Regions from separate parts of the Homo sapiens genome. Here region 2 is linked to region 1. Evidence: fine-mapped expression QTL. A gene starts in region 1. The other region holds a variant in brackets. All regions are shown on one strand. Distances are between the middles of the regions.

Region 1 (11,044 bases):
CTGTCTGATTTTTGCCTTTTCTAGGATGTCATATAAATACAATCATACAAGATGTTGTCCTTGGGTTTGGATTTTTTTCTCATTTAAGATTCATCCATCCACATCACTGTATATTTTCATCTGGACTCTCTCTCTTTTGCACATCAAACTGTTGCTAAACTGCCGGGTTCACCAGCCCACTGTGCAGCAATAGGCCAATACTCAGACAGCAGGGTTTGCGGCAGAGAAAGAGTTTAATAATTGCAAGGCCGCTGAACAAGAAAACGGGAGGAATTCCCAGCTTCAAATCTGTTTGCTGAGGAGTTCTGGGCAAGAGTTTTTAAGGGGATTGTGGAGGATGAGGGGCTGGAAAATACGGGGTAAATACGGGGTCATCGATTGGTCCGGTAAAGGAGTGAAATTATCAGGATGTGGAAACTGTGTCTTCCAGGAGTCAGCTGCTTAGTGGGCCCTTCAGAGGAGGGGGATGGATAGTTTTGTCAGTTTGCAGAATCTAAAGGGGAAACGCTTAGATTTTATCCGTAGAACAAAGAGCCTTGTGAGGAGGGCTACCTTATTCTGGGGTTGTGAGCAGCGACCGGCTACAAGGAAGTGGGCCAAAGGGCAAGCTGGCTTAGTGATTTCTGCTGATTGTGTTGCTAGTCTAGTTGAATTTTTTCTTTTTTCCTTTAATCAGTTTTATAAAGTTTTTTGGGGAACGGTTTCAAAACCAGCTGAGCGGTTTCTGACCATGCTGCTGTGCCTCTGCCTGGATGGCTCTCCCTCACCTAGTTCTTTCTCCTCCTTCAGGCCTCAGCCTCAATGCCACCTCCTGAGCCCTGCCGTCACTGTGACGGCTCCCCCCTCCCCCAACACACACAATTAGTTTTTATTGTATTTTCCTAAGTTCCTTCATGTCACAGTTATATTATTCATATATTCTTATGGGTCAAATTGTCCCTGTCCCAAAAATTTGTATGTTGAAGTCCTAACCTTCAGTACCTCAGAATGCGACCTTATTTGGAGACAAGGCCTTTACAGAGGTAATCAAGTGAACATGAGGTCATTAGGGCAGGCCCTCACCCAACATGACTGGCATCATTATTCAGAAGAGGAGGTTTAGACACAGATCTGCACAGAAGCATGGCGATGTGAAGACAGCCATCTACAAGCCAAGGAGTGAGACCTGGGACAGATTCATTCTCCTCACAGCCCTCAGAAGGAACCAACCCTGCTAACACCTTGATCTTGAACTTCCAGCTCCAGAATGGCAAGACAGTACTTTTCTGTTGTTTAAGCCACCTAGTTTTTGGCACTTTGTTACGGCAGCCCTACTGTACTAATACATATATATATATTTCCTTTCTGCCCTCTCTAGAGTGCAGGCTTCTTGGGAGCAGGGATCCCCTCTGTCTCATTCATAGCCCTGTCCCCAGAGGGGGCCTTCAATATATTAATATTTCCGCATTAATGAATGGGTACATCATGTTATTTTGTTGTTGCCATTATCCCTATAAGGTTGGCTTGCCAAGTTTAGGCTCCTTACCCAAGTTGATGGCTAAAAGAGAGAACTCTTGATACCTGGGGCCGCATCATTCCAATTATGCTACAGTTCCCTGAGGGCCTTCTTATGTTAGATAAAATCTGGAAACAAATTCTACTGTCTTTTCCTTCTTATAGGATACAGAAGACTTGTTCTTCTAAAAGTGTTTCAGGAAGTTCAAAGCTGTCTCATTTGGGCTGTGGGGAGAGAAGCAAAAACAACAACAACAAATCAACCAAACCCAGATACCTTGAATGACATTTTTCCAGTAAACAAAGCAAACCAACAAACCAAACAAAAACCTTCTTTATTTTTTTTAACCTAAGTATTGGCTATCATACTCATTTATAAAGCAGACACCCCAATCCATTCTCATATGATTATTTACTCCAATGTGATTTGCAAAGATCTTTCAAGAAGCTGTCAGTTGCACACTTGGAGCTGTAGGCCCATTGATTAAAACACACTTGCAAACTAAGAGACATTTGCCAGAATGGCCAGAAAAAAAGAGGCCATGGCAGCTTTTAAACCAACACCAGACAGGTTCTGAGAGACCAAATGCATGCAGAGGGGTGTTTGGGGATGGAGGGTGGGCAACAGATAGTAAATATATTACTGCTTTGAGTGGCCAGATACCTACCTGGAAGCAGGTTTGCAATATGATAGCCCACTCAATTAATTTTTTTTTCCCCAAGGGGCCTAAGTAGTATAGCTATTCTTTAATTTGAAATGAGTTAAGTTTGGGGAATGATAGCATATTTAATGTACAGCTGGGCACTGGTGCATTCTAACTCTGGCTATGTTCTCTTTTGTGGTTTTGCCTTGGTCTCTATGTCCTTGGGGTGTCTTTTCTCTGTCTCTATACATCACAGTGTGTTTCTGACTTCTCTGCTCATTCTTCTACCAGCACCTCTCTGCCTCTCTGTTTGTCTGTCACTGTTGTCTCTCTCTGTCGTCCTGTCATATTATCAGGCTGCCTGTTTGGCTACAGTAAAACTTCATCAGCCTCCCCTACACTGAGAGCAGAGCTTTTTTGTGGAACACAATAGCATTCAGAAGAGAGAAAAATCTCTTTAAGTGTGCAAATGCTGTCTCATTATCCTGAGACTGGAGGGAGGAACCTCTCAAGCTTTGTCATTTCAGTAAGAAACAAAAACCTTTGAAATTTTTACAATTATCTTCACACTCATATCTCCTTGTCCCCTACACCAGCTAAAAGATGAGTGAATAGCGCTGAGTGCTCGTTGGCTGGTCCATGGAGGGAAGGATCATTTATTGAGATATTAATTCAGGTTCTATCTTTGCTGCTGAAAGAGAATCAAAAAGAATGAGAAGCTTTGCTGTCCTGTGCTCTGGGTCTCTCCCTCCCCCAGGCCCTCAGCTGGGCAAGGAGGCAGGGAGGGCCTATTATACATGCTTTTATACACACACACACACACACACACACACACACACACACACACACAGAAATACATAAGCTTAATCTCTTCTTTTGGTTGAAAAAGTATAGCTGAGTGGGTGAGAGTAATAGCTCCAGAATTATGCAAATCATAGCTCAAACACAGGTTCATACCCACAGATTTACATCCCAGCTGTACTATGTGGCTTTGGGTGAGTTACCTAGATTCTCTTACCTTCAGTTTGTTCATCTGTAACATGGTGATAATGAGGAAGTTACTATGAAAATGAAATGAATCAATTCATTTAAAATATCTAGAAAAAGTGCTTGGCCCCTGGCAAGTACCTGAGAAGCTGGCTCTTATTTTCACTATTACTTACTGACTAATCTTGGAGAAGGAAATTGTTAGTGATTACCCACCGTAAAGCTTTGAACTGGATGACTTCTGAAGTTCTATACTTCTCTAAACACCATGGACACGGGTTTCTCATAAGGCCTTATACTCTTCTCTACTTTTGACTAACAATGGGTAAAAGCCATGATTAGAAATTGGACTGAAAATACAGTGGCTTAACACTTTAAAAAGAAAGATCTAGGGCTCACAGAAGACCAACCAATGATCTGAGTCATGTGGCAAAGAGCACGTAGGGCAGGGTTTGGGTTAGGTATACCGTAGCATTATTAGCACAGTTCACAAACTCTTCTTCCTTTGGGACACTAGTGGCCCCAGGAGGGAATGCAATTTACCTCCGAGAGAGTGACTAACTGGACAAATAAACAAGAGAAGAAAAAAGTGAAGACATTGAAACAAAAAAATTGGCTTATCTGATTTATAAAATAATCTGCTAGAGGGTGGCTGATGTCTTCACAAAGCCTTTCACTTGCATGAACTCCGGGCTGCTGTTGGGAGGAGCATGTTCAAGGGCTCCCTGGCTACTATATCTTTTGACTCTTTGGGAGAGAGAAGAGGCAAGGGCTTCAAATCAGCCTAGAGTTTGAGACTGAGCTATTTGAAATAGTGAGAGGAAAGAACAGTAGCTGTCCTGAACATGCAGAAAGTCTTGACTGATCAGTATCTGCAGGGCAGATTTTCAATCCTTTTAATCCCTTTGAGATGGATTCCACAGGCTCTACTGGGTAGTGGATCCAAGATGGCTGTGTGATCCTGGACAAGCCTCATCTGTAAAATGGCAGCAATACCTGCCCTATCTAACTCATAGAGTGGCTGTCAGACTCAGAGAAGACAACAAGTGAATGCTTGGGGACCTGACCAGTTGTAATGGCACAAGTGGGAAAATGCTTCCCATTCTCGTTCTTTTTCTCTCTCATTCACTTATGTCCCCATATCTGTAGTCAGGCATTTGTGGTATAAATAGCTTGGTTAGGAGTAGAGTGGGTAGCCATGAGCAGGGTGTGGAAGTTAAAATGGCACCTTTGCCAATTCCAGCCAAGCCTATGGCCAACAGCCAGGCCTGGCCTCTTCCACTTGACACTGGCCTGCTGGTGAGACTCACAAGACCTCCTTGCTTTGTAAACATCATCCAAAATTCTTCCATCAGTTGACATCACCATCTAGTGGGGTCTTCTCTCATGGGAACTTCTGCTCAGAGAGCGAATTGCTATGAGTCAGTAGGAATGACTAACAGAGATTCCAGAGAGAAGACACTGCCAGTTCATGGCCTCTTAAAGAAATGAATACATCAGTTAAAAGGCTCTTGTCTGCTGTCTATGACTTTCAGAACAACTTCTCCCAGTTGTCTGACATTGAGAGTAATGGAACCCTTGGGAGAAGTATCAACGTAATTAACAAACTTAGACATAATGATCCCTGATACTTTTAACAAAACATAAAATAACCAAGAAATGTCTACCACTTTATAAGTTCACATTGGAAACACACCTGATATAAATAATGAGTCAGAACAGTGGTTTCACTATTAAAAGTCAGCAGGTTTCATTATTAAAAGTCAGCCAAGAAAACGTGAAAACTTACAGGCTGAAAGAATAATTAAAGGCGATCACTATAGATTTTAAGCATTATTAGTTCTCAAAACTTCTGACTGGCTGATGATGAAGACAAATTCATTCTAATTGTCCTTGATAATTTCATGCTTTTAAAATCTCATGGCAAGACCAACTTGGGAGCCATAGTCCTCAACAGTGGGCATGGTCAGAATGATGGCTGGTAAGAGCAGAGCCCTAATCCATGACAGAATCTGTTAGCCTGCATGGATACAAGTGGGATGATGACTAATGAAGCCACTATTTAGCATTGTATCTAGGATTTCCTTGCCATCTGTAAACCGTGACCCCTCCCTTCAGGCAGTTTTTTAACCTGAGGTGGTTACCTGTTTTTGTTTGCTGTCCTACACTCCTGGCCCCTTGATAGAATTCAACTCTTCTTTGATAACGATTCAGTCTTCCCCTGTTCAAGTGATCAATGTGGGGCTGACCCCACCTCAGCTTCAGAGATGAGCATGTGACCCTGCCTGGCCAATGAGAATACCATATCTCTCTGACCATAGTGATTGGTTAAGGGATGAACATGTGGCCCACAGCTGACCAATCAGAGCTACTGAGACTCAGTTCTATGGTTTCAATGGAAACCACTGAAAAAGAGAAACTCTCTTTTGGCTAGAGTTGCTGTGAGGATGGAATGGGGAACCTGGACAGCTCCAGCAATCTTACTGCAGAAGGTGCTTCTGGGTGGATCCCAGGCAGAGGAATCAGAGGCAAAACATGGAGGGAGTGAACTCCTGAAATCACTTGGGTTCTGAATCCAGCCAAGCCCGAAACCAGCCCTGCCCTGGGCTTTTCAGGTACTTGAGCCAATGCATTCTCTTTTCCTCTTCATCAAGGTTTGTTTAGAGTTTGCATCCCACGTGACTGAACAGAATGGACATTGCTCTTAGCAAGGGACAGTAACCATGAGTCCAAGTCCTGAAACAGAGATGGGGTCCCCTTCCTCCCTTCTCACTGGTTTCCTTCCTCCTGAGTGGGGTCTATCTGAGCCTGGCATTTCCTTCGTGACAGTTTCATTTGCTCCTGGACGGTTCCCTTGCTCACCATCAGCCCTCGGGCCAGCTCTAACACTCAGTTTGTCCAGATAATGTTAGGAACCTGTAAAGAGGAACTCTATGTTGTTCAACTTTTTCTCTCATTAGCACACTGTTTTTCTGTCCCGGGTGATGCAGGCTGAATGCAAAGCAGCAAGATGTGCTGGTTTGAATTCCGTGGCCTTCCTTCATCAGCCTGAGTGTTTGTGTACACACAGCTGGGCTGCAACGTCAGTTTCTGTCTGATGGCTCAGAGCCACAATTTTACCCTGTTATTGATGCCCATTATGTCATTTTAGAAAATGTAGGGATGTGGCTGTCCAACTTATCTGAATATCTGTATATAAATAAATAAATGTACATTTAAATCCATCCTAACTTTGACGTGATCTGAGGGAAAAATGAGGTCTTTGTGTTTTCCCATAGAAATAAGAAGAAAGTAGGTTAATAAACCATCAGTATCACAAGCAATAATGCAACACATGAAATATCATTTGCAAATTATTTTTGCAATTACAATGTTGGTTTTCCATGAAGAGTTGTAGCAGCTGCCTCCTCTCTCAAATAACATATTCACCTGTGGACAGATGGGGAATTGCTAAGATCCCAGCTTATGTTTGTGAAAAGAGAAGCACCACAGTTTAGTGAGCAAGGAGGTTACTAAGCTTGGTGTGCACTCAAAGGCCATGTCTGCACTGTGTGTGATGAAGTGGAGGCTTTGGATACCCATCAGCAAGTTTTATGTTAATAAAATATTTTTTCTTCTATCAAATGCTAAGACCAAAAAGTTTGTCATCTGAATGTAATCGCGTAATTGTCTTGACTCTCAGCTCCATTTTGTGCTCAGAAGAAAGCAGTTGTGTCACGAAATGGAAAGATGAGGTCTAGGTTCAGTAGACCAGTATTGGCATTCTGGGAAAAATAAGACCCCAAAGATAACTTTTTACCATGATTTCACAGACAAATAGGACCTGAGATTTTCTTTTTATGGAGCAAGAAAGCAATGCTTATGAGGACCAGATCTGGGTCTAGTACTACCAAAGAGACTGCAGAGACTTGTGGAGGCATGTGATGGTGTTTCTGAACAATGTTTTTAAATTGTATATGTTTTGTAACAGGAAGAGAGAGATAGGGAAAGGGAGGCGGGAGGAAGGAAAGAAGAAAATAAGAGGAAGGAAGGAAGAATGGAGGAAAATTTCTCTTAATCAGAGAAATAATGAGAGCAAAAAAGAAAAAGAAACCCAGAGAGTCAGAATTCTATTGCAGCATCGTTGGCTAGAGAAAAGGACACTCGGGATTTGACAGGTCGTTGGGAGTGGCTGCTGGGTTTGAGCAGAGTATAACACATCAAGAGCTATGATATACGAAACTGAGTAGGCTTATTTCTTGCATGGCAGAGGAAGGATTAGAACCAATGAGTAGGAAAGAGACTTTGGTTCAGTTTTAAGAACTTTCTTAATAGAGAAATGGGCTTGCCAGTGAGTAGTGAGTTTCTTGTCTGGAGACTTTCCAGCAGAGACCAAACACATATAGGGTACGTTGACAAGGGAATTTAAACATTGAGGAAAATGTTAGACTAACTACTGAGATTCTATGTTTCACATTCGACTCTTGGAAATTAAGCAGTCATCTTAATAGAATACCTGGAAGAATCTGAAGCCACTGGGAACAAATAACCCTTAGACTCATGCAGAGTTCAGAGGAGGAAAAAGCTATGGCAGCAAGAACAAAGCACAAACCAAGTTAACACTTTGCAGCAATGAGGCAATTACTTCCCTCCAAAAACTCCACAGGGAACAATAGTAGGTAGAAGTTAAATCACAAACACTTCCCCTCATTATCTAGGAAATAACTTGAGCTGCCCTTCTAATTAGCATCTGTAAGCAGCCCTGTGCTGTCAGTTCTGGATAACTCTCAGAACCTAGTAAGATGATTATACAAGATGCTCAATCCCATGGTCATTGTTGGCCAGAACACTGCCACCCACACAATGACATGAGTAAGAGGCACTGCAGAAGCCACTTAAACTCCTGGACATATGGGCATAATAACATTTGGAGCTATTGTATAGTTCTGCAATTCAGTGAGCTTCAGCATATTCTGAGAATGAACAAGCTTCCTTCTTATGGTTAGAGTTGCTTTGGCACCTAACTCTCCATGTAAAGAGCCTTGTGTGCAGGGGCAGAGATGATTACATTTAAAATAAAGGCTTACATTTGCATTAATCACATTTATTAGGAAGCTAAGCAAAATCTAAGCTACTGTTTAAAGGTTCTGATGGAAAACATTTTCTCCTTCCACCTGTTCTTGGGGCAATATATTCTATGGACATGGTGACGGCCACTTTCTTCAGGTTGTCCTAGGTAGCTATTTATAAAATCATAGTTATAGAATGTTGGGTCACTTTTTAATGTGCTTATTAAAGCCAAGGAAATAATTTGGCATAACTCCCCAGGCATACTAGAGAAAACCAAGGCATGATCCAAGTAAGAGTCTCAATTTTGCATTTCTCTACTTTCTTCTGGGAGCTTGTCAATATTTGCTATTTGGTTTTCTTACTTTTTTACTTTGAAATCACTATAGGTGTGGGTTGGGGAAGTGAGGATGAGATACACTTTCAAAAAGTTCATACGGGCTGGAAAGGAGATGGGCACCTTAAGTCCCTGGGAGGAATTCATCAAGTATTAGTTATTTTCATGTGTCATGGGTGAGAAGCTTTTCTCCTCTCATCCAAGCAAGCCCAGCCTTTGGTTTTTCCAAGGCAGAGACCGTCTACTGGTCTCTAAGGACTTTCTGTAAACATCTTGTTAATTAGCTGTTAAGCACATTAAGTGAGAAATAAACATGAGTGACTTCATATTTATAGAGTTTGACAGGGGTAAAATCAATTGCTAATTGAGAAGAAGAATTTGAAAAAGAGACAAAAATATACCTAAGGATTTTGGTTTTGAGTCTCTGTTTCTATAGCCTAATTTTTCTCCTGGTTGTATAGACTATCATTTCTTGTTTCTTGGCCTGTACAGTAATTTTTATCTGGGTGCTGAACACTGTAAATTTTACTTTGTTGAGTATTTGGATTTTGTTGTCATCCTTTAAAGAGAGTTAGACTTTGCTCTGGCAGAAAGTTGTTATTTGAGCATCAAATTGTTTTTGTTTTGTTTTGTTTTTGAGGTTTGTTTTTAAGCTTTATTAGAGTGGTCCTAAAGTAGTCTGTAGGGCTAGTACAATGGCATGGCCCTCATGAAGTCTCTACTAAATGCTCTGGGATTTTAACCAGGTCTCTCTACTCTGGCTGGTTGGAGCTAAACTATCTTGCATCCCTGCGTGAGCTCTGGGAATTGCTCAGCTCACAGCTTACAGGTAGCAGTTCTTTGACCAGTTCTATGGAGTTTTACTCTGAAAATACACAGCTCAGTTTTCAGTCAGAGACCCATAGAGACACCCATGCAGATTTCTGGAGCTTTTTCTTTGTACGTTTTTTTCCTCTCCAGTATACTACCTCACAAAGCTGCCTCAGTCTCTCTAAACTATGATCCCTGTCTTGTCAATTCACAAAGACTGCTGTGTTCTCCTTGGCATCGCTTTGGGCACTGAGGTCTGGAAGGTGCCTCCAGGCAGAAATCTGGAGTGGTTGTGGGGCTCACCTTGTTATTTATCTTCTCTCAGGGACTATGTTCTTAATGCTACCTGTTGTCCAATGCCTGAAAGCAGTTTTATATATTCTATTTAGTTTTCTAGTAATTTATGATGGGAAAATATATCAGCTTCCAGCTACTCTGTCATGGCCAGAAATGGAAGTTCTTCATTTCCTAGTCTTTGCATACACATGTTGCACTGTTTCTGCTGCCAACAATTCATCAAACATTACATAGTTGAATAGAAACAGGACCTGGAGGTTGGGGTTGGAGAGGAGATTGTAACTCAGTGGCAAGACATTCATATAAATAAGTCCACCATGGGGAAGAATAATAGAGACGTGTAGTCTGGGCATGGCCTGGCTTTCCCTGTCTAGGACTCTCACACCGATAACCCTCTAAGCTGGGCTTAAACACTTCTTCCCTTTCCCATTATCAATACTGACTCATCCTTGACCCAGACTTACTTTTGTTTATTTGTTGTTTTGAAGCAGTCTTTTATTCTTTTTTATTTTAAACTTTTATTTTAAGTTCAGGCTACACGTGCAGGTTTGTTATATAGGTAAACTTGTGTCGTGGAGGTTTGTTGGACAGGTTGTTTCATCACCCAGGTATTAAGCCTAGTACCCATTAGTTATTTTTCCTGACCCTCTCCCTCCTCCTTTTTTTGAGGGATGACGACAGTTGCTAATCTTGATCTAGTAAATGAATATGGACTGTGTAATTTCCTCCCAAGATCCTGGATCCTTAGCCTAGACATGATTCAAATGAATAATGATATCTTTATGCAGCAGGGAAGGACAATAGGAATGACTGGTGTTAGATGAGACTTGTCAAATTATGCCAAGCAAGCAATTGTCTATGGCTAGTGAACACCCTCAACCCTAGCTCCATTGCTTTTCTTAGCTAACTCCTTCCCCAGTCCCCCATTCAGGAAGATCCTACTTGACTTCTCCATCAGCTTTTTTAGCCTTCAAGCTCAGCTCCAGCCTATCTCCCCTCTAGGCTTGTTATATCATGTGTGCCAGGATGCTTACTTGGATGTATGGCTTCTTGCCAGCATATATTTTGTTCTTGAGGCTTATTCTTAAGTGGGTGGGCCACTGAAGTGTCATTCTCTCTATGTAAGCTGGGGCAGGAACTTGAAAATTGTTTGATGGAGGAGAATAAAGGGAAGTTTGCTGAAAGGATTAAAACAAGCCTGAGGAAAAGTCATGAAGCAGTAAAAGTAATAAATATTAATTACAGTCAAATGGAATTGTATGATGACTATTAGTTGTTTGCAGTTTCAGCTACAAATGCTGGATTCCTTTGATCTTTCTGAGGAAGGTAAGTCCTGGTTCCATCTCTAGGTTGTATTTGCAATTCTCAAGGCTGATTAAAGAACGTTATAGCATCTTCACATTAAGAAAGCTTGCCAAAGCTTTTCCCT
Region 2 (11,044 bases), 200 kb after region 1:
GGCTGCCACTTTATTCTACTGTGAACCCCAAATATCTGAAAGAGGTCTCAGTTAATTTTGAAAGTTTATTTTGCCAAGGTTGAGGACACATGCCCATGACACAGCCTCAGGAGGTCCTGACAACATGTGCCCAAGGTGGTCAGAGCACAGTTTGGTTTTATACATTTTAGGGAGACATGAGACATCAATCAACATATGTAAGATGAACATTGGTTCTGTCTGGAAAGGTGGGACAAGTCCAAGTGGAGAGGGGGTTTCTAGGCCATAGGTCAATAAGAAAGAAATGGTTGCAATCTTTTGAGTTTCTGATTAGCCTCTCCAAAGGAGGCAATCAGATACATATTTATCTCAGTGAGCAGAGGGGTGACTTTGAATAGAATGGGAGGCAGGATTGCCCTAAGCAGTTCTCAGCTTGATTTTTCCCTTCAACTTAGTGATTTGGGGGCCCCAAGATATTTTCCTTTCACACTGTCTTGCACATCTCACATAAATTTCTCTTGGGGACAACCCTGACTCAGAACCAAACAGAGAAGGGAATTCTGAGAAAGGTAGTTTTTGCTTTAGCATGTTGACACAATACCTATCCACACTGATTGAGAAAACAAAGAAAATACAAATTACCAAAATCAGGATTGAAAGAGGTGATATCACTATAGATTTTATAAACATTTATGAAAAACAAGCCCTGGCTCATTCATTGCTCACCTTCAGAATTTCCTGGTTGTGTGTGCTCCTGGGAGAAAGAAAGTTTACATTAAAAAAGAAAAAGACATCCAATTACCTATCCTTCTTGTTTCCTTGCTGAGTTAAATATGCCTATGTATTAAAGCAAAAATTTAAACAATCGATCAATTAGAGTATTAGGATGTACTTTGCTAAAGGATTCTTCAGGCAGCAGAACATGGACAAGTTTCATGGTAGGTTATTTCACTGACAAGCTCAAGGGCAAGAACGGTGAAATTTAAAATCATTAGCCTCTGCGCATTAAAGATTGGTGAGAAATGAGGACAACATTTCAGAAATGAAAATTATATGCCCACAATACTTTCAAGCAGAATTAAACACAATCTTAAGACCCACTTATTGCCGGAAGTGAACATTCTTTGCACATGCTCCAGCTCCCTTGTTTCCTTACAATACAGATTCTTTGCCTTTTGTAGTCAGGATTAAAGGACATAACATCCCTCACTATGCAGAGCGTTGTGCAAATAGTGATCATGAGAAAGGAGCCTGTGAGTTAGGTTTCTGCTTTATTTGCCCATACAAAGAGAACAGAGCCTTCTAGAGTAGCTTTCCCATTGTCTCATTATTTGTCATACAACTCAGCACACACTGGAAGACAATCACAAGGTGGGCACACAGAGGTTTGATCGAGGTCCTGTTACTCAAAGCTCCCCTTTGCCTCTATCTCTATTGCCAATGAGGAAATGTATCTGATCAATTAACTCACACTAGCATACAGAGGTGCCTTTTCAGATCAGAGTATTTCTAAAAAGATATCTGGAGCCGAGCATGGTGGTTCATGCCTGTAATCCCAGCACTTTGTGAGGCCAAGGTGGGTGGATCATGAGGTCAGGAGTTCAAGACCAGCCTGGCCAACATGGTGAAACGCGGTCTCTACTAAAAATACAAAAATTAGCCAGGCACAGTGGCAGGCATCTGTAATCCCAGCTACTTGGGAGGCTGAGGCAGGAGAATCGTTTGAACCTGGGAGGTAGAGGTTGCAGTGAGCCAAGATCGTGCCACTGCACTCTAGCCTGGGCGACAGAGCAAGACTCTGTCTCAAAAAATAAAAATACAAAAAGATACCTGGAGAAATCAACTACAATATGGATTTATAATGGTGGGATATCAAGCACTGGTGAGGCTGAGTTAGAAGAGATTTGGCTACTATGGGAGGAATTTTTAGACTCTGCTTGAATCCTTTCTCCCTCTCTCTGCTTCCTTCATTGTTTCGTGGAAATCTAGAAAGTGCCAACTACCTCATAAGCAGGTGGGTTAATGCCTGCCTTGACTGGATGTTTGATCTCATTAGCCGACAGTTTCCTTTTTCATCATTTCCAACAGCGCCATTGTTTATGACCCCAGATAGACCTGGGATGCTAGTTACCAGCCTGATCATGTCCACTGTCACATTTCATGTCTTCTGTCAGAATTTATGATGTAGCATCCTTTGGAGGTCACTAAAAACATCTTCAGAGGAAAGAGCTTCTGTGAATCCACTGAGTCATAAAACCGTCTCCTAGAGAGGAGTATTTCTCATGGATCAGAAGCTGTCTGGAAGAGCAGCTTGCAGGAAGGAAGAGTTAAATGAGACAGTCGGTTGCGCAAACACTTGAGTGAGAAAGCAGTGAGAGCGATTCGATGAGCTTTTTCTTCCCCTAAAATTAATTACAATTTTAAAGGCTGGCAGCTTGATTTTATATTGCAACTTTCTTCAATTAAATCTACATTTTTTCTATCTTACTTCATGTCATCTCACTAATTGGTTGCAGCATCTACTTGTGCTACCACCAAACTGTCTTTGCTTAAAAGAAGCTGTTTTACTAAAAGAAAATTAAAAATGTAAATGTATCCTATCTTATATTGCCTCTTCCTTTTCTGCCAGAAGAGAGGGGGAAATAACTGATCAGTGAAATCCTAAGAGGCACAAACTGGAGTTACATTTTTGCAATGTGCGGGACAGCGCCATGAAGCTACAATGTGTCTGGTACCCTGGGTTCATTCTCATCCAGTCAATGCATATTGAGCACCCACTGTATGCCAGGCCCTGGTCTAGATGCTTTGGGGTCTAAGCAGGATCATTCAAGTGTCCATAAGAGCTTCCTCCAGCTTCCCAGGCATGGCAGAATCATTAGCACACTCAAAACTCTGTTTCTGGTGGCCTTTCCCCAAACCGTTAAAATCATGGCAATGTCAAGTGAACAATTATTTCCTTATTTTCCTTCAATAAATGCTGGTAGCTATTGTATTACCACCTCCTCCACTAACATCCATTTTGAAAATAATGGCAATTCAGTAAAAAGCTTAGAAAGCAAAACAAAGTAAAATTATTCTGTTTCATTAAACAACATTAAAAGACTGGGTTCAAAATAGGGTCTGTGTTATACTCAGCTGACTCTGACGACCAAGTCAGCAGGGAAGTCCCTCCAATTTCTTACCATCTGTGGGTGCTAGAAGGGCTTGCAAACCTGCTGTGTGTAAAAGGTGGCAGTCAAAGAAGCCTCTTAAAACAAGAAAGGGATTTGAAATGGCTGTGTCCAACTGGTTGTCAATCTGGATTCCAGGGGCCCTAGAGGTTCAAGGTGATGCCTCCAGACCACTAGGAGGAGCTGTTGAGGGTGGTCAAGGGGCCAACAGACTGCAACCTCCAGTTCCCCACCCCAACTTCAACCCAAAGGGTATCCCTTTCACCTGTCTTACCTACCAGTGTCCCTTGGGACAATCCATGAAAGAAAAGAGCTCTACAGAAGAAAAGGGCTCTACAGCCTTAAAAATAAGGAAACCCACTGGCCTATGACCTGCTGTAGCATGCTAGAGGGCAATGCTGATGACGTATTCTCTTTGGGACTCAAATAGTTTGAAACAGCGAACGTTTTGATGAATGACGAAGTAAAAGCTGGGTTGGCCAACACTGTACTGTTACAGATGATGCTTGCTCCTCTCCTGCAGTTCTGCACACTCCTCCACCCAACATCAAGTGCCTGGGGAAGCCAAGCCAGCGTAGCACAGCCCCCAGATACTTCAACATTCAAACTTCAGACATTCAAGTCCACATTTCCATGCAATCCTGCATAATGTAAGCAAATTTAGCTTGCTTAAAAATAGATACTCCCAAGGTTGGGTAATGCACGGCCTTTTTTGCTGTAAACCAAGATGCAGCAGATGGAGACCTTAACCATTATTCTTTTTGCTCCTTCTTTTTCTCAGTTCATGACACAGTAAAGGATGATTTCAGAGAAAAGTTAATAAGAATATGCATCTAATGAGGATTGCAAAATGTTCACTTTGCAGTGATGGATAAAGCCATTTTGGAGTCAATCCTAAAAAGCCAAGACTCCTGGGTGTCAGTCAGGATGGAGCGATGCACAGAACCTAGAGGGGAAGCAGTCCAACCCCCCAGCAGATGCATGAGTTTATGCAGAAATTTGAAACAAGGCTGCCATTTATTAGGTATTTATCATGAGCCAGGACCTCTGTAAATAGCATCTCTAATTCTCAAAACAACCTTTTAAGTTAAGTATTTTCATTTTACAGATAGGAAACTGAGGTTCAGAGAAGTAGTATTATGTCCAAGCCGCCAAGCTAGTAAGTGACAGAATCAGGTTGCAAATCAGATCTGCCTGATTGTTCTCTTCCTGCTTCCCACACTACCCCACTGTTTGCACATCTCCAGTGACAGGGAACTCACTGCCTCCCAAGCCACATGTGTGCTGAATAGCGCTAAGGAATAAAAAGCACTTTGTGTTGAAATGAAACCCACTGCCTGTTACTGCTACACCTAGAACCTGCATCTGCCCTTTGGAGCCACACAAAGTCCATCAAAGAGGGCTTCCACAAGACAGCCTTCCAAGGAATTTGAAGAAAGATTGTGGAGCTCAATTTCTCTTCTCTAGGTTAAGCCTCCTGGGGCTGGGGTGTAGGGCTCAGGATGTGGGTCCTGGAACCAGACTGCTGGGGTTCAAGTCTCTGCTCAGTGACCTACTGGGTGAACGAGATGAATTTCAAATTTTCTTTTACTCAGTTTCATCTTATACTCTGTCTCATCCATAAAATGGTGTGAAAGCAATAACATCTACTTTTTTGTGTTTATGAGAATTCAATAATTTATAGAAAGCACTTGCCATACAGCTTGCAAACAGCAGGAGCTTAATAAGTGACAATGATAATCAGTACTCATGGCTTCCAGCTGTGTAACAATCCTGCTGTTTCTCCTCTTGACCTTTTCTTATTGATGTAGGGGCCTCTTGAATGTGATGAGGAAACAGAACGGAAAACTCCAGGACAGGCCTGAGCAGCTTGTAAGAGAAGAGCATCATCGCCTTTATTCTAAATGTGATGCTTGTTTTAACGTAGGCTAAGGGGAGTTATTAGTTTGGGCTATAGCCACATTATACTGGTAACTCGTATTAAACTTGGAGTTAACAGAAACCCCCTGATATTTTTATTCCACCCTCCATGCCATCCTAACTCAAGGGCCCTCTGAAGTCTAAAGCTGAAAGGTGGCTTACTCGAATTGAGTGGTGGGTAAATGGGGGTTGGTTATGCATAATCTGTTTTTCAGACATTTGAAATTCTCCATATTTTTTAAATGAGGGATTTAAAGATTTCCAGGACTTAGTCTGGGCCAACTTAGTGATGATTGAATGAAATTTATTGAATGGACAGATGGAAAGATCGATCTGGTAAGTCCATGGATGTGAAAACTGAGGATCTGAGATTTTAAGTAATCTTCCTGGGTCTCATAACCAGCCAGAATTAGGCATCAGTCTTCAAGCCTGGGGAAAGAAACTGGCATTTATTGCTTTTTGTACCAGACCCCTCGCCAGGGGCTTTACCTGCCTTTTCTCATTTAATCTTTACAACCAACTTATGCCGACAAAACCAAGGTCCAGACGTCACCCAGCAATGAATGGCAGGGCTCAGCTCCAAACCCAAGCCACCAGACCACACACTGCCTCTCTCCAGCTCTGTGTCGACGGGTAGTTCTATATGCAAAGCTATCTATATTGTTTTAAGGATAACAAGTAACATTAAGCAACTATCTGCTGGCTCCTCTTCTATGTGCCTTATTTCTTTCAACTCACTAATCCTGATAGCAACACCATAAGATGTGAGGCAGGGAAAATGTAAATGTCTTGCTCAAGTTCATCGTTAATAAGTAGAAGGACTGAGATGTGAACTGGATGGTCTAGTCTACGGACTGTATATTTAACAACCACAGCCTATTGATTCTTGTCTATCAACCTGGAATCCAGAAATACATGCCTCATGTAGGCACCCTCCAGAATTCTTTGTCCTCCCTTTCTCGTGTATGTCTCTTTCCCTAGACCCTTACCTCCTTTCCTCCTACCCCATCATAAATGGTTGCTTCATTTGAAATGATCTAACACAAAAATTGGTGAAATGATTATCAAATTTGCAGAGTACTCAGGTTGATGTGTGTCAAACACATTTATTATGCAACCAAAGATGCCGATTCTGGCTTGTTTTCTCAATTCTCAGCTCTAAAAGCTTGACAAGGAACATTACTAGAAAAACACATGCTCTGTAGTTAAGATGGATGAAACTGCAGTTTGT[G/A]TTGATTTTGGTAAGACAGCTAGTTAAGAACATGTTTAATTACCTGATCCCAGGGGTTGTGTTTGAATTAACCAGATGTTGGTTCCTCTCTGTACTGGAAGATGTTCTCAACGGATTCTTATTGATGATAGGAGGATCAATGGGTAAGTGTGCTTCAAAGTAATTAATAATGCATGTTTAGGTTAGAGAATTCAATAGCTTAAGAGAATAAAATATTTTAATTCCTATATCATCAACAGCAGTTATTTGCAACAAAGGACGACTTTGTCCCCCAGGGGATATTTGGCAACACCTAGAGACTTTTTGGTTGTCACAACTGGGGTGAGAGGTGCTACTGGCATCTACTGAGTAGAGGCCACAGCTTCTCCTAAACATTTACAGTGCTCAGGACAGCTCCCCACAGAAAGAATTATCTGGCTCAAAATGTTAATAGAGTGGAGGCTGAGGAACACTTATCTATAACAATACCAAAATAATACAAATAGTAATGAGAGAAAAGGTATTGATTTCACGATACAGAAAATGATTCATAATAATAGATTGACATTGGTCCCCACCATCACATCAACTCTATTAAAATGAATGATAATGGTTATAATTTAGTTAAAGGTCACACTGAAGCAGAGTTATCAGTATCCAATGAAAACATTTCTAGCCCTCTTTTTCTGTAGAAATTGTTCCACAACAGCCAGTTTTTCTGGGATTCACAAATTCAGGGATAACATGTAACACATGGGCTTAGCATTAACATAACTACAGAAGGAGAATTGGCTTATAAACCTGAAGACAGGCTCAGCACGGTGGCTCACACCTGTGATCCTAGCACTTTGGGAGGACAAGGCAAGCAGATCACCTGAGATCAGGAGTTCAAGACCAGCCTGGCTAATATGGTGAAACCTTGTCTCTTCTAAAAATACAAAAATTACCCAGCGTGGTGGCGCATACCTGTAATCCCAGCTACCCAGGAGGCTGAGGCAGGAGAATTGCTGGAACCCAGGAGACGGAGGCTGGCTGCAGTGAGCTGAGATCGCACTACTGCACTCCAGCCTGGGTGACAGAATGAGACTCCGTCTCAAAAAAAAAAAAACAAAAACAAAAAAAAACCTGAATGCAAACGAAGGTTCAAGTGAAGGTGTCACCTGCTTGGGTAAGTCATATAAGTCCCATGCCTGGGTTTCCCTAATCTTATAATGAAAGTAATAGAAAACTTCCTGAGGCATTAAGATGATTATATTAAATAAAGCATATCAGCCCCTTAATAAGAAGAAAACACTATCCTACAGAAGGTTTTATTAGAAGAATCGTTATTACAAGTAAAAACAGACACCTCAAACAGCCATAGAAATTGCCTGATAATTCTAAATTCTAATAACAAACCCTAAAATAGTTATGCCCTAGTCAATTCAATCAAAGACTTAGTCATTCTTTTCTAATAAAACATGATTGTTTGAATTAAATGCTCTTAATAATATCCCAGAATTAGATAATGGCAGTGCACCTGGAGATTTCTCTATTATCAACAGAATAGCATCTCTTTGAGAAGCAGAAATGGTTGAGTGAGTTCTGAAATGAGACTAGAAAAAACAAAAATAGATATGGGGAAAAAGAACAATGTATAAAACAATCTTTCAATTAAGACTAAACAGAAAAAAGAGGCATATAGGCCAAAATCTGGGGCAGAGAACACTCTTCCCTTATGGTTTTATGACATTAGACAAGTTTTTCAGTTTCAAGAGGACAGGCACATGATTTTAGTAAAAGGAAGGCTGTATTGAATAACTAAAGGCGTGAAAATAGAAGGACAAACAATTTTTAAAATAAAAAAGGCAAACATAATGCCCTAAAGCATATCCTTGGTTAAATAATTTATTTTTCCGAGTTGCATGGAACAAGAGCAGGTTAAACTGTACCCTTCTGTAAAATTAAGTAGAACTCTCTATATAAGGGTATCAGGAGCAGAGGGCCCCCTTTTAATCTGTGAAGTGATGCACTTTAAAAATTCCATGCAGTGCTGGCCCAAGGCTAAATTTTCATATCAAACACAATGAAATTCAGGAGGAACTTATACCAAATTAATTTTCTCAAAGCATACATTGATTTGCTCACTTCCTACACTCCGTGCAAACTCAAAAGCCAGCTGAGGCTCTGTAAAGAGTGTAAGTTCAGACCCTCCTCCTGCCAGTTTCCCTCCCATTCCCTCTGTTGGCTGTCACACCTGCTATTATGCACAACTCCCTCCCTGAATTAGGGCCCTGGATCCCCTGCTTTCCTCTTTCCAAGGCTGCTTTTGCTGCTGCTTTTCCCCAGGAGGAATACTCACATTTGGATCCTAGCCAGCTCAGCCGCCACCCCTCCAGGAAGCCTCCCTGACTTCCCCAGCTGGAAGGCTGCCAGCAGCCCATCCTGCAGCCCTTCCCAACAGCTCACCTATCACACTTTTTGTATTCTAGATTATTTTGTTCCTGGACCCAACACCATGCTAAGCAGGAGAGGAAGAAGGAAAGAAGGGAGGGAAGCCCTGGCTTCAGCATCCTTTGAGCACTTGCTGCTTGCTTGCCCAGCATTTCCCCAACATCCTTGCTCTTCCAACTCTTGCATAATCCTGGGGAGTCAGCACACTCCACTTACAGAGGAGAAAACTGAGGCTCAGGGAGGTCCCCTGCTCTTTCCCCCACTCTATGTGGCCACAGCTTCTCCAATCTGCCTGGGGCACCCCACCAGTGATGTGTTGCTTACTGTAGGCTGCCTGGACACTTTTGGTGCGAATGCTAGAAAAATGAATTCCACTGACAGACCTCAGCATTACTTAGTGGGAGCCAAGGAGGCCAGTTGCTTTAAGCACTCCTGGAGCATTGCCTCAGGCCACTGGATAATTCTGGGCAAGCTGATAGCCACTGCCCCAGCCCCAAACGCCCTGGGTCCCCTATCGGAAATAGATTCCCTCACACCAAGCCGATGCCTGGGCTGCCCACACACTGCTATGCAGAGTAACAGGGTGACAGGCCGTAGCATTCATGGCTGCCACTGTATAAATATTCCTAGCATGGAAAAGCAGTCTTAGACTCATGGTGGCTTTTTAGGATTATATTTACATCAAACGCAGCCACTAACTTCGGGAACATCTTGACAACCCACCTCTCTCCTTCCTCTCTGGGGTAGCTCTTGTAACCCTCCCCTTTGCTCTCTCTGTGCCAGCCCCATTGGCCTCTTTGTGTCCCACAAATGCACTGAGCATACTTGAGCCTAGGGCTTTGCAGTGACTGTTCCCTCTGCTAGAACACTCTTCCTTTGCACATCCATATGACCAGATTCCCTTTATCTCTTCCAAGAGTTGGCTCATGTGTCGCCTTCCTGACTGGGGCACCGTTCTGAAAATTGTAATCACTTCTCACCCAAGCACACCCTCCATACTCCCAAGCCCCATACCTGTTATGTTTCTTGTCTCTGTAGCATTCACCACTGTACTAATATTCTATTTATATTCTAACTTTATTTTTTTCTTATTTCTTGTCTCCACCCACTCTTTCCCCAAAGAGCAGGCACTTTTGTCAAATTTATCTCACTTTTCTATCTTAAGTCCACAGCAGAGTGTCTGGGGCATAGCAGCACTCATGTTCAATAAGTACTTGTTGAGTGAATAAACCTTAGAACATTTCCCTGGTATTATGGTTCGAATGTATGTCACCCTAAAATTCATATGTTGGAATCTAAGACCCAATGTGTGAGTATTAAGAAGTGGGGCCTTTAGAAGGCAATGAAGCCATCCCTCATGAATGAGACCAGTACCTTATAAAAGGGCCCCAGGGAACCATCTAGGTCCTTTTTGCCTTTCTGCCTCCAGACATGTAAGGATGCGGCAAAGGCCCTCGCCAGATGCTGAATGCGGATGCCGTCATCTTGGACTTCCTAGCTTCCAGAACGGTGAGAAATACATTTCTATTGTTTATAAATTACTCAGTCCATGGAATGCTGTTGTAGCAGCACAAATGAACTAAGAGACCTGGCAGATTACAGACCTCATTTTAATTTTAAAAACAGAAATTAGGATGAGCTAATATATTAATTTCCTCTGACTGCTCTAACAAATTACCATAACTTTGATAGCTTAAAACAACCCGAATTTATTATCTTACAGTTCTGGAGATCAGAGTTTGATATGGGTCAAACGAGGCTAAAATCAGGGTCTCATCTGGCTTCATTTTGTCCTGGAGGCTCTGGAGGAGACTCTGTTTCCTTGCCTTTTCCAGCTCCGAGAGGCTGCCTGTATTCCTGTAATTCCTCGTAATTATGTTGAGCCTACTCAGATAATCTAGGAAAATCTCCTCATCTCAAGATCCTTAATTCAATGACATCTGCAAAGTCTCTTTTGCCATGAAAAGAAATATATATTGATAGGTTTTGGGGATTAGGGCACGGATAACTTTGGGGGAGGCAGATTATTCTACAGGTAAAAACTTTTTGCCATTTACATAATCTTTAAAAAAAGATTTGATTAATTATGCAAATGTTTACAACATACAGAGGAAGTACAAAAAATGATGTCTTTCACCAAAAGCAAACAGCTAACATTTGTCATATATGTTTGGCTCACAACTTTTGGAAATAAAACGTTGCAAATACAGCTAAATCCCCAACTCATTTCTCATTTCCTTCCTTCTTACCTTTCCTCAACAGTATCCACTATTAAGGCTAATGGGAATTATTGTGATGAATGTATTTTTACCATTTCTACTGCTAGGACTCA

The links. PIP is the estimated chance that this variant, and not a neighbour inherited with it, causes the effect.
Region 2: its variant is fine-mapped to the expression of LINC02930 in whole blood (TOPMed, PIP 0.95).

What each region holds. Positions count from the first base shown.
Region 1 is chr10:120,603,034-120,614,077 of GRCh38, forward strand. LINC02930 (long intergenic non-protein coding RNA 2930) reads left to right here and starts at 5,549. Exons shown (of 5, transcript XR_002957103.2): 1 at 5,549-5,740.
Region 2 is chr10:120,801,890-120,812,933 of GRCh38, forward strand. It overlaps LINC02930 (long intergenic non-protein coding RNA 2930), which reads left to right. Exons shown (of 5, transcript XR_002957103.2): 3 at 10,142-10,221. All of the region lies in intron 1 of WDR11-DT (WDR11 divergent transcript), which reads right to left. Among named protein-coding and RNA genes, the nearest start is that of WDR11-DT, 44 kb to the right of the region's middle. The variant G/A (reference allele first, on the strand shown) is at 6,301.